Linked DNA regions of Homo sapiens: region 2 is linked to region 1. The links come from fine-mapping of genetic effects on gene expression. A gene starts in region 1. The other region holds a variant in brackets. All regions are shown on one strand. Distances are between the middles of the regions.

Region 1 (2,824 bases):
CAGAAAGTTGACAGATTTCAGAACACTAAGCAGGAAGTTTGGCACCTGAAATATTTTCCTTCAGACCAAGGGGGCATGGAATTGGTTGTTGGAAGGAGAAGGATTTGGATGAGATCACAAAAACTAAAGCTCCTGGTTCTTTGAATGATGCTCTCCCAGGAATCTGGGTGGAAAGAAGCCAAGGCTCAAATTCTTTGTCTTTTCAGCAATGAATAGGAAAAATTCAACTTTTGAGTGTTATCTCAGCAGTTACTTTCACTCAGTTTTGCCCCTTCGGCCCTAAAATGAATGAGACGTTTTCAAAGCAGATGGCAGTGAGTCAAGCAGAAACGTGGAATATAAGTACATCCCCACTTCCACGAAGTCCCGAAGCTTGATTACAGCACTCTCATGGGCCATGTAAACAGGGGACCAGAAACTGAGCAGAAGACAGATTTAAGCCGGGGCGGGGGGCGGGGGGGAGGGAATTGTAAGACTAGGACAGGGTGAGCGCCACATGTGGCTTTAATATCCAACAGCTGCTAGAGATCATCACCCCGCTGCTCTCTCTGTACCCCTACACCAGAATCCTCTGTCTCAAAGACCATAACTAAAGCGGCCACTGCCATGTTATCTGAGTAACGAACTCAAGCTCGAGCACATTCAAGGATTTTTTTTAACTTAGTGTACCTGGATGTAGCCGACTGGACCTTTAATCACAAAACCAAAGCTTTAAAACAAAGTCTCCAGGAAAGAACAAGAAGGAAAATCAATTACACAGTGCACTTGAGCAGACTGGGGAGGCGGGTAAAAGAAAAGTGAGGGAAGATAGGGCAGCCGGGATTCCCTGGACTGGAGCTCTCTTCTCTAGAGCTAACTTTTCAGACCTGGAGGTCTCCAAGGCCCCCGCAACTCAGTGAGTCTCGGGGCACCAACAAATCCCCGCGGGGGTCACCGCGCCCGCGAACGCAGAGTCCACACGTGGATTCCCGCGCCTGTGATGCCCCGACCCGTCCCGGGTCCCCGCACAGACAATGCCGCGCGTCCTTCCCGCAGCCACTCCGGGACCCGCGCCCCGCGCCGCCCGGACGTCCCCCTGCGTCTGCCGGGGACACTCACCGACACCAGGAACTCCAGCGTGCCCACATAGTCCCGCTCGGTCTTCTGGAGCTCGCTGAGCACGCACACGCGCAGGCGAAGCTGCTTCTCCAGGTCCTTGGCGCTCTCGGCGCGGCTGTCTCCGCGGCTGTCCTCGCTCATGGTCGGCGGCGGTGCGCAGCGCGGCGCTGCCCGCCGTGCTGAGCGCTGACCCGCGCGCCCGCTGCTGCCCGGCCCCCGGCGGCGAGAATGGAAAGTTGCCGCCTCCGCCAACTCCGAGGAGAGACAGAAGACTTTACATGCTGGGGAGAGGCTGGGCGCAGGGAGAGGAGGGGATCGGGCTGAAATCCCGGCGCGGGGGGCGCGGGGCTCTGCAGAGGAAACTCCTGGGAGTGGGGGCTCCGGCCAGGCCCTGCGCGCCCGGCCCCGCTGCTCTGGCCTCACACGGCCGGGGCTGGAGGGGAAGCGGCTTCGGCAGCCACAGCAGTGACTTGGACATTAATCAAAAGCTTTGTATCCATGTGACTCCGACCCTTTACCCTTCGCCAAATCTCAGGAAAAAGGAAACACAACCCTGGGGAAGTACTGCGTACTGGCTAATCACACACACGCGCGCGCGCGCACACACACACACACACGCACACACACACACACACACACACACAGCAGCACTTGATATGGAACTCACAGGAGGTTCCCAATCCCAGGGACACACACTCCAAGGCGCAGCTCGAGGGTTACTCCTAAGCCTCCGCTATTGTTTAACTTTAATGTGTTTCGTACAAATCCTGAAAGCAAAGAAACAAGTCCCCACGGTTACATAACTGGATGGGAACAAAAACAACCACGGTATTGACCCTCCCTCTTTGAAAAGAAACACATTGATTTTTTGTTTCATTCAGGCACAAAACAGGTTTGCTTTTAAAACCCTCCAACTGAGAATAGTTCACAGGGCAGACACCCTCCAGTCTGAGCTTGGAAAGTCAATTAGCATAATAAATGAAGACACTATGGGAAAATGACAGCCTCTGCCCATGCAATAAACCCCAGATAAAATAAGCATCACCCTTGTACTGTGCTGTTTTCCATGTCTACAACTTTTTTCAACATCAAGATAGTATGTAAATCCATTGAGAGGCGAGGGTATTTGTGCCAGTTTTGTTTCTAAGAGCTGCTGTGATTTAAGACGGTGTCACTAATTGAAAAGATAAAGCTGTTGTTGAATGCTCATCAGAAGATAGAAAGCTAGATAGATAACGGAAATAATCTTAGATTTTTGAAGATAGACACACAGAACATTCTTGATTTTAAAGTTAAAGTTTATTGCCTTTTCTCACTTGGAAACTAAGCCTTAAATATTTCCAATACATTTAACAAACAAAACAATTTATATATTTTTTTGAATTGGTATTATACACATATATTTTCCACAGATCAACTTCAGTCTAAAACTAATGGCATTTAAATAAACTGAAGAGTGAATAGAGTTGTTGCAAGAAAGTGGTATGTTAATTTGTTGCAGTCACTGAAAGCATTAGCAAAACTCTAAAACATAAAGATGCTTTTCACTATATTTACATTAAAATAATTACCTATTGGTTTTCCAGATGATGTCTTTCCAGAGCATAGTGTGACCATTCCCCTCTGTAACCACACAAAGAAGGATTGTACTTTCTTTGTATATTAAAGATAAAATTTTCGAATGATGTACACAAAGCTGATGGGCAAGATGTGATTTTCCTCTTTC
Region 2 (2,824 bases), 110 kb after region 1:
CCACTTCCCAGACCACAAGGGCTACAAGTAGTGGAGACCTTGATACCATTAGTGAGACTGGGGGCTAAAGCCTGAAGGAGAAAGAATGGGGATGGGAGCCAAACCACAAATGTCTGCTACCATACCACCATCACTGGAGGATAACAACCATTGACATGTTGTTATATGTATGTGTGTAAGAAATTAGAGCAGTTATGTGCCCACCAAAAATGTACAACAATGGCATATCAATTTAAGAATGTTAGAAAGAAATTAGAGCATTTAAAAATGGATGTATAGTCTTCTCCTTTTACTTTATAATGTACAAAAGGCATCATTATGTGAGAAGAAAGTACCTTTAATTTGACAATTAGCACATAGTCCAAATATCATAGATTCAGTAGAGCTAAGTTAAAATTTAAAATCAAGGTCAGGAACATGTGAAAGACCTAGGGAAAAAAAAGTTGGAAAAAGAATTCAAGTTCATGAATTTTGCATCTGAGAGTCAGAGCTACTAATCTATCAAATACTTTGCTTATAGCATCGGAGCAAACTGTTCACGAGTAATTTTAACAAGTTTTTCTTAATTCATTCAAGGGGTAAGTATAATGAAAACTAAAGTAGGGTTACAGACAGGCCAGAATCGAATGACAGAATAAGCATGATGAGTTATCTGTATTCATTTTACATGACTGATACATTGAAAATTTTCCTCAGTCAAAAACAACTTCCATATGATATCATGCTGGTCAGGGATGGTAGCAACTGATACTAAGTATTGCAGGAAAAGAGTTGGTTAGAAAAGTCAGTTTCACATTAAAATGGCAATGTAGCAAACATACATGCATCTGGTTAAGATTTATTAAGAATAAAACATCTAGCAGAAGAGGAAGTTTCCACCAATGCTATTAACCATGCATATTTGATTTCATCTTCAATGCCATGACTGTCACACTGCATTTATTACTTAGACGATCTCATTACTTTTCCTATACTTCCTTCCTTTCATTGAATTTTGTGATCTTATAACCCATGACATGTAGCACTCACACCATACTACAGTGATATGTGCTAGATGTATACGTATGACAAAGTTCTGTGATCAAAGAACAACAAGATCTGTCATCCTCCAGATACTGCAGTCAGGGTCAGTTCTCAATTATTTCTCCTTGGGAACAGG[G/T]TTATGTTTACTATTGCTATTACTAAATATTTATGTGACAAATGAGATGCTCAAAAGTCTCCAAACAACTTTTATGTGTCATCTTCTCAAAGGCTTGCCTTGATGGAATGACATTCCTACGCACATTTTGCAAAAGGACAGCTAAGTCAACATCAATGGGCACATCAAAACCAGGAGGCAGCCATGACTTCAGGACAAGGATCATGATTCCTTCCAAGAAATAGAAAACCACTGGGGACTTTGAGCAGGAGAGGGAGTTCTTAGCAGAAAAGATGTTTGTTTTTGTTTCTGTTTTCTTTTAGAGAGATAACTTTGACAGAGTATCATAGGCGAATAGGTGTGTGAAGAGAGTGGAAAAAACAAGGCAGACAAAACAGTTGGAGTGAACTGCAATAGATCAGGCTTGAGGGGACAAGGGCCAGATAAAGGATTTAGCATTTGCAAGTGCAGATGTAAAGCAAAATGGTGAAGAGATACATGGTCTGGAAGCACCAGTGTAGACAAAGGTTTGAGCCTCTTCTTCCTACCAAGTGAATCAGGGCAAGAGTCGCAACTGAGTGGCACAAAACAATGGCATCACCATGGGGAAGCCTGGATTCAGGTATGGGGATGGGGAACGAGGTCGAGAGCTTGAACACCTTTCAATAGATTGGACAGAACAGAAAAGTCAAGGTCTGGAGCTAGAAATACCTACTTGGTGGCCAGACCCACTTTCCAAAATGGTAATAAGTTTATTTAGGTAGATGGATTCCAGACAAGGTAATGACAATCAACAGATGGAAAGCTAGGCCAGGAGCTGACATCAGGCTGGCCTAAAGAAGTAAAAGAATATTATCAAAATTAGACGACCCAAAGGGTGAATGTGAGCCAACAATCTGTAGAGATCCAGGCAACAGACAGCATTATGCACATCTGACGTTTCACCTTCCAAGGAGTGAGAATTGACAAGGATGAGGCGTGACCTGTTCCAGGTGACCAGCACATTAGACAGGTATTTGATGCAGGGGCTCCAGCAAGAGGAATGGGTCATGAGGCTGCTGGAATGAGAGGACAAACAGAGAGCTGGGTGTTAACCCCCAACTATGAAAATTGAGACACAAAGTCAGAGTGAGGTTGACGTAGAGCAGAAGCACTTGAATATTGAAGACTAAGGACAAAATTGGCCACAGGCTCCAGAGCCAGTGGTCTCTTCCATGGAGAGAGAAAGGAGTACAAAGCTAAAGAGATACGAGGGTGTTTTTTGAAGTATTTGAAAGAGTAGTTAAGATAAAGGATAGTTTGTTCAAGACAGATTGGGGCTCCTAGGCACACTGAAAAGAATCAGATGTGACAACTGTCTAGAGAGTAATTTGTGAAGAAAATATCATTTTCCCAATGGATACCTAAAAAGAAACTTCTCTTTTTCCCTTGGTCTATAACATAGCAAGCAAAAATAAAACAGGAAGGAAGGAAGGGAGGGAGGAAGGAAGGCAAAAGGGGAGGAAGGGAGGAGAGGAGGAAGGGAGGAAGGAAGGAATGGAGGTAGGGAGGAAAGAAGGGAGGGAAGGAAAAGAAGAGAAGAGAGGGGAGGAGAGGAGAGGAGGGGAGAAGAGAGAAAAAAGGAGGGGAGGGGAGGGGAGGAAAGGATTCTCCAAGTAAGAGGCTCGAGAAACTTCATCCTTGACA

Alleles and levels. Alleles are on the strand shown, and positions count from the first base shown. SD is a standard deviation of normalised expression in the study named.
For the expression in pancreas of the gene that starts at base 1,588 in region 1, T is the low allele of the variant in region 2 and G is the other (large effect, 1.1 SD a copy in GTEx).

What was found.
Region 2: its variant is fine-mapped to the expression of PREX2 in pancreas (GTEx, PIP 0.97).

What each region holds. Positions count from the first base shown.
Region 1 is chr8:67,950,810-67,953,633 of GRCh38, reverse strand. It overlaps PREX2 (phosphatidylinositol-3,4,5-trisphosphate dependent Rac exchange factor 2), which reads right to left and starts at 1,588. Exons shown (of 40, transcript NM_024870.4): 1 at 1,099-1,588. The coding sequence starts at 1,239.
Region 2 is chr8:67,836,411-67,839,234 of GRCh38, reverse strand. No RefSeq gene overlaps it. Among named protein-coding and RNA genes, the nearest start is that of CPA6, 91 kb to the right of the region's middle. The variant G/T (reference allele first, on the strand shown) is at 1,160.